Homo sapiens: one gene and its partner. Each later gene encodes a partner of the first gene's protein in a complex. Each region holds a gene or a part of one and is shown in the gene's direction. Other genes may lie near its edges.

Evidence for each region.
Region 2: PPFIA1 (region 1) and ERC1 share a complex: the UniProt entries of both Homo sapiens proteins name them as parts of the cortical microtubule stabilization complex.

The regions. Positions count from the first base shown.
Region 1 is NC_000011.10:70,381,536-70,384,963, forward strand, and holds the end of PPFIA1 (liprin-alpha-1), read left to right. Parts: intron 1-552; coding exon 553-611; 3' UTR 612-623; intron 624-1,467; coding exon of another isoform or gene 1,468-1,493; 3' UTR 1,494-2,861; downstream 2,862-3,428. UniProt on the Homo sapiens protein: May regulate the disassembly of focal adhesions. May localize receptor-like tyrosine phosphatases type 2A at specific sites on the plasma membrane, possibly regulating their interaction with the extracellular environment and their association with substrates.
Region 2 is NC_000012.12:1,022,124-1,025,947, forward strand, and holds part of ERC1 (ELKS/Rab6-interacting/CAST family member 1), read left to right. Parts: intron 1-3,824. UniProt on the Homo sapiens protein: Regulatory subunit of the IKK complex. Probably recruits IkappaBalpha/NFKBIA to the complex. May be involved in the organization of the cytomatrix at the nerve terminals active zone (CAZ) which regulates neurotransmitter release.

The DNA.
Region 1 (3,428 bases):
CTCCTCCCCAGGAGAAAAGGGCACCGGCTTCCCAGACACCCAGCTAGTGCTGGGTAGCAAGGTTCTCTCCCTCCTCTTAGACTGGTCTTGTACCCGACGTCGTTGGCCTCTGCGCTCAGTGGGGCTGGGCAGCATCAGCAGTGCCGCTTGGTGTTTCCTTCATACCAGTGTTAGAGATGGAGCACTTAGGGCAGGGAGAAAGCCCCATTGGTCTATGAATGCAGAGTTTAGTAAGAGATAAAGGGATCACTCTAAGTAGGGGTCATTTATGCAGATGTACATTTTGAAATTGTTACTGTACCATTTGGTGCTTGGTATTTCGGAGTAGTGTTCCAGAGTCTCCCGGGGCTCTTTGGGAGCTGGGGAGAGCCACCACTGGGTGACACTTGGATCTCTCTGGCTCCATCCCGCCCACTCAGGCAGCTCCCCTCAGGTCCCTCCGTAGGCACTGCTGTAGGTGTGAAGATGTGTGTCTACTTGTGCCCTCATGTGATGTTCTAAGACTAACTGCACGCTGTGTTTGCACGCTTCCTCTCGTGGCTGTTGAAACAGGCAATGTATCAGGAACACAGAGGTTGGATTCTGCTACAGTCAGGACTTACTCCTGCTAAAGTCTCCTGTTGGTGAGTAGAGAGCACCACAACCCCTAGAGATGGCTCAGAGGCACAGCAGGAGTCATCGGAGCTGCAGTGCCAGACTAGGGGTGTGGACCATGAAAGCCAGTGCAGTTTTTGGGGAATTTAAAATATATATAGACACAAGCTCTCCGTACCCATTAAGATCATTTTGTTGTTACAATTGATCATAAAGAGGTTAGTGTGTCCTCTTTTTTTAAGGAAAAAAATGTATTTTCACCTTTTCCTTAAACCTGAAAATGCTGACTCATTTTAATTGTCTGTGGATGTCATGGGGGTGGAGTGGGGAGGAGAGCAGAGCATGGCAGAGAGCGTCAGGGGAGAGTCTCTCCTCCTGACGTCGTTATGCACATTGCTGTGATTCCTAAGCTTGCTTTGTTTTAAATACACATTCTTGAATGAAACAAGCCCAAAGTTTTGTGGTTAATTATATATTATACTAAGTGTGACACTAATAGCCTTTCAGTTTGGAGAGACTGGTTCTTAAAACTGCGGACTCTGGCTGGTGAGTGGCCCGCCCTCTCCTTGCTGTTCTAAGCAATTTTAAGGTCTCCGTTGGAATATTTGACTGGTTTGTTCATCTTTTATTTGTAATTGGTAACATGGAGACGTAAGCCAAAATGAAGTCAGCCAAGGAGCTGTCTCATTGATGTGCATAGCCCTTGATGTTCTAGCCAGTGATTCTCAGAGCAGCTACGGCACAGAAAGTGAGGGGTCCTGGAGGGGAGGGGTCAGTGTCGGGGGGACGTTTGGGCCCCAGCATCAGAAGTTCCCGTTCGTCAGTATGGCCCGGCCTGTACTGAGTGGTTTTTTGTTTGTGTTTATTTTCCAGTTTACCCACACTACTTCTACAGATGATTATGCAGCATTTGAATCCAACAAAGACTACATTTTGGAATCCAGTGGAATCTTTAATCTTGTTAATACTTGTTATATGGACCCTAAGATATTTTATTACAGAGTTTTTAATTAGTGAAAAATTCATGAATACCATAGAGAAAATATTTTAGAATTTAATGTTTCTTATATTTATGTAAACTTATGACTCTTCATTTATATAGTTACTTACTTTTTCATGTATATCCAGGCTATAAATATCCTTTCAAATCATGTTCTTATACCTAATTTTAGTCTTTCAAATGAATGTACTGTAATGCTTGTATGTATAAATCCTATGAATAGAGGGCTTTTGTAAATTATGCATTTATTGTAATTATCATTAATTTTTTAATGATAAACCATGACAAAGGATTTTACGTTTATAAAATTATGACAGAAGCCATGTGCATTATCCTTTACGGACGCAGCCTAGCTCTACAGCAATCATCCTGAAATAAGCATACCTAATTTCAAGCAATTGTTGTATTTTCATGACTGACCTTAACTGTACTTTTTCTAGCAAGAGATGCTTTATTCTGCAGCATGAACAGATTTAAAATGGCTGGTGTTAAATATCAGCTCCTAATAAGATGTGGACTGAAAACACTATCACAACACTATGAGAAGCCCCTAGCACTGGTTAACGCTTTCCTAGCCTAGTCTCTGGATTTGGGGAGCTTGTCTTCAGTGGCTGAGACTGTGAGCTGGGAGCAGTTCTCTCAGCTGGAGAGACTCGGGATGGGGTAACCTGGGGACCAGTCTAGCCCCTGCACCCTCTTCCCTGCCTCTGCTCCTTGGGAGCGGGTGGAGAGACACCCATGTGGCTCCCCTTAGGGCCAGCACCAAGCACCACGCTCTCATCCTGCAAGTCGGCGCACACAGTGGATGAAGGCAGGAGACCCAGAAAGCAGTGCAGTGCAGCTCTAATAAAGGCCTTATTTTTCTTATGTAAATCATCTTTTTACATTTGTTTGTAAACATGTTTAAAGAACGAACCTAGTGGGACATTTTTAGACTTTGATGCTCTAGCCATTTTGGATTGTGTAAGTTGCAGATGTGGCTTTTACTTTTTAAATGGCATATTAACAAGCCAGCAAAGTGTGTCAGACCATGGCGTGGTATTTATTGTGCAGCAGATCCAGAGACAGAGGCAGCCTGTCTTTTCAGTTGGTTTCTGCTTTTAATTTACTTGTACAATTCATTGTTACTGTTCTGTTTTTCTATTAATCTTTTGTCAACTTCCTGATTATGTAACAAAGTATGTACAGTCTACTTTTGAACTATTTTTATCACAGTATTATTTATTGCTTTCTTTCAATAAAGTACTGAAGCATTTTCCACTGCCAATGAAGAATACTGAGAATAAGCTCTAACTGTTTTGGAAGGCAGTGTCACCATATGGAAATTGTATTACAGAAGTCAATTGACAGAATAAAGCAGCCAGGAGATGAAGTGCAGGTTCAGGGCGTCATCCTGCCCGCTGCTCTGGAGGTCCCGAGCCTGCATCACTGCAGGAGACAGGTGCCTGGTGTTAAATTGTTAAATGCAAATGTGGGGGCTCACATACACAGTCGGTGGGTAGGGCCCAAAGGCAGAGCCTAGGCCGTGGACCGCGCGCATGCACGCATGTCCCTTAACACCGTTTCCCAGCTCTGCTTCCTTCCTCGGTGCTGGCTTCACACTCCCACCTGCTCTCCCTGCCTGCTCACAAAGGTGGCTCCCAGGCCTGCACCCTTCCACACTGATGGCCTCTGGAAATCAGGAAGCCTGGTTCCCTAATAGCTCACATCCGGTCCTGAGTTGTGAAGCAGCCCAGGGTGGCAGAGGGGAGGCGACACGCTGACAGGCTGGGGGAGTCAAGCAGGGCCCACCCATGGAAGTTGGTGAGCTGAGGCTGAAGGGCTGGAAGCTGAT
Region 2 (3,824 bases), on another chromosome or scaffold:
CCAGGCTGGTCTTGAATTCCTGGACTCAAGCAATCCTACTTCCTTGGTCTCCCAAAGTGCTGGGATTACAGGCACAGGCTATTGTGCCTGGCCAAGAAGTACATTTTATATTGTGATCCAGTATGCACATGTGCATGCATATGCACACCTGAAACATTGCAGAAAACAATACTGTTATCTCTTGTTGCATTACAATTACTTCAGAACTTACTGGATTTGAAAAACAAACATCTCAGATTTCATGAAGAGTGTGTTGGGTGATTCTGGCTCAGGGTATGTAGTGATTTTATTTCATTTAAAACAAACAAGAAAACAAGCTTGGTTGCAGCTTATCAAGCTGATTTCACAACCTACTATTGGGTCATAATTCTAAGTTTGAAAAACACTGACTGGGGACTGTTACCGTTTGGCTGTGTCCCCAGCAATCTCATCTTGAATTGTAGTTCCCATAATCCCTACATGTTGTGGAGGGACCTGGTGGTAGCTGAATCGTGGGGTCGGTTACCCCATGCTGTTCTGATAGTGAGTGCTCACGAGATCGATTTTATTTTTTCTTTTTTGAGACAGAGTCTTGCTCTGTCACCCAGGCTTGAGTGCAGTGGCATAATCTTGGGTCACTGAAACCTTTGCCTCCTGGGTTCAAGTGAGCACGTCTGGGTAATATTTGTATTTTTAGTAGAGATAGGGTTTCACCATGTTGGCCAGGCTGGTCTTGAACTCCTGACCTCAAGTGATCCACTGACCTTGGCCTCCCAAAGTGTTGGGATTACAGGCGTTAGCCACCGCGCCCAGCCTAGATCTGATGGTTTTGTAAGGGGCTCTTCCCCCTTTGCTTGGCACTTCTTCCTGCCGCCATGTGAAGAAGGATGTGTTTGCTTCCCCTTCTGCCATGATTGTAAGCTTCTTGAGGCCTCCCCAGCCCTGCAGAACTGTGAGTCAATTAAACCTCTTTCTTTTATAAATTACCCAGTCTTATGGGTAGTTCTACATAGAGCTTGAGAATGGACTAATACAGGACTCTGAGGCTAGAGGCAGGCAGTCAGGTTAGAAAGTTGTTTTAATTCAGGTAGGATAGGATGGCATAAACCAAGGTAATAATTGTGGGAATGGAGGAAGAGGATCAATTTAAGAGGTACCTAGAAATCAAAGCAACAGGAATTGTATTGTTTTGATAATATGTGTGTATATGGAGTATGAAGATTTTGGGAGGACTCTCAGGCTCTGGCTTGAGCAGCTGATGTTATTCATGTGAATAGATGTTGTCCACTACCATGTTCTTTTTTTGATTTTTTTTTTTTCCCCTGCAGCAGCAGGTTTGGTTTTGGAATGGGGAGACCTTGATACGGAGTTCAGTTTGGGGGCATGGTGTATTTGAGGTGCATGTGAGGAGTATAAGTGAAGATGTCCAGAAGTGGGATACATAGTTTTGATTCTCAAAGGAGAAGTAAAAAAGTACTGGAGAAGTAGTGAATTTGGAGTCTTTGTTGTACATATGTTATTTTAAGCTGGTGGAGGCAGGGAGAAAGGATTTCTTAAGGATGATATTGTAGTGTGAGAATAACATAGGGATGAAGATCAGAAACATTTAAGGGAGGAACGAACAAAGAAGGAGGAGGGTTAGAAGAAAAGAGCATATGATATAAAGAAACCAAGAGAGGAGAGTGTCAAAAAATTGGGAGTGCTTAAGAAACAAGATGTATTATAGACAGAAGTTAAAAAGGCATTAGAGAGGAAAAGTGTTCATTAACTAAGGTTTCTCTGGAGAAGCCAGAGGGAATGGGGACTAAAGTACCCTGTGGAAGGATTAGCTGTAGCCCACTTCCATCAGAATAGAGGAAGTTAAGGATGGTTGTTGCTGTCAATGAACATGTGGAGAGAGAAAGTTGAGATAGTTCCTGTTTGATTTCTTTGTTTCTCTCTTATGTAGGAGATGAGATACGTAAATTTGATAGGGCTGCTGTAAGAAAGTACCATCAGCTGGGCACGGTGGCTCACGCCTGTAATCCCAGTACTTTGGGAGGCTGAGGCAGGCGAATCCGTTGGGCCCAGGAGTTCGAGACCAGACTGGGCAACATGGTGAAACCCCACCTCTACCAAAAATACAAAAATTAGCTGGGTGTGCTGATGCTCGCCTGTAGTCTCAGCTACTCGGGTGGCTGAGGTGGGAGAAGTGCTTGAGCCTGGGAGGTTGAGGCCACGGTGAGCTGTGATTGTACCACTGCACTCCAGCCTGGGTGACAGAGGAGACCTTGTCTCAACAAACAAAAACACAAAACATCTCCCGCCTCTCCACCCCGCTCCCCCCACAGGTTTGAAACCACCTGCCTGTTATTTCAAACCACCTGTGTGTTCACATTTTTGAGGACTTTTAACCTGTTTGACCAGAATAGATACTGTCTTTAGAATCTCATTTTTGACAATATGATTTACTTGGTACTGTTTTCAATGAAGAAACACTTATAAGAATCAATTTACATAACAATGGATTTTGGGAAAATATTGTTTAATATGCTGAAGCCTGTTGTTACTTGACCTAAGCCAATGCTTTGAAATGATGCTAGGAAATCAGAGAGATCTAGTTTAGATCTATATTGTCTTTGAAAGAAGTCTATAAAGTTGATAGCTATAGTTTAGTGGGTTCTGCATCCACAGCTCAAACCACCTGTGGACCAAAAATATTTGGGAAAGAATCTTAAAGTCACCTTGAAAAAAAAAGTGGAAAAAAAAAAAAAAAGAAAATACTTGGGAAAAAATAATACAACATGGAAAAATAATACAAATAAAAAACACAATAAGTATAACAACGATTTACATAGCATCTACATTTTATTAAGTATTATAAGTAATTTAGAGATGATTTAAAGTATGCTGGAGGATATCCATAGGTTTTATGCAATTACTGTGTCATTTTGAATCAGGGACTTGAGCATCCTGGGATTTTTGTTGTCTGGGGCAGTCTTGGATATCTGGATACGTTCTACTGGAGCCAGTCCCCAGCAGATACCAAGGGACAACTGCCTGTGGTTTTAAAATTTGTTTTAGTTATACTTGTAGAGTATGAACATGTTTTCTTTTTTGAAAAAAAAATTCAGGTGCTTTATGGTAGTTTGAGTGTAAAGCTTTCTAAGTTGAGCTAAAGCCTCCACAAACATTTTTCCCCTTTATAACACAAGTTTCCTTCCCTCTAATTATCGCTGTTTCAAAATTGGCATTTCCCGTGTAGGAATTCTTTACATACTCTGTTTACAGATCATTATACTTATGTTCACTGTATTTTTCACCTAGCTTTTGGTTTATCTTTTAATTTTATTTACAGCATTTTTTGGTATAATACTTTGTCATTTTGACATAATTAAGTGTGTTGGTTGTTTTTCTTTATGGTTTTTGCTTCTGGTTTTTTATTTAAGAAGCCTTTTCCTAACTCAAGTTCACAAGGATATTCTTCAAAATTTTCTTCTAGTACTTTTAATGGCTTAAAAAATTTATATCTTTAATGTATATGGAATTTATTTTGGTGTACTATGTGAAGACGAGTATACGTTATGTTTCTCAAAGAGCAACAAGTATTTAAACTTCATTTATTGAGTGATTTTTCATTTCCTCACTGTATTAGTCTGTTCTCATGTTGCTAATACAGACATACCCGAGACTAGGTAATTTAAAAAGGAAAGTTTTTTTTTTTTTTTTTTTTTGAGACGGAGTCTCGCTCTTGTCACCCAGGCTGGAGTGCAGTGGCGCGATCTCGGCTCACTGCAATGTCTGCCGCCTGGGTTCAAGCTTCTTATGCCTCAGCCTCCTGAGTGGCTGGGATTACAGGCACCTGC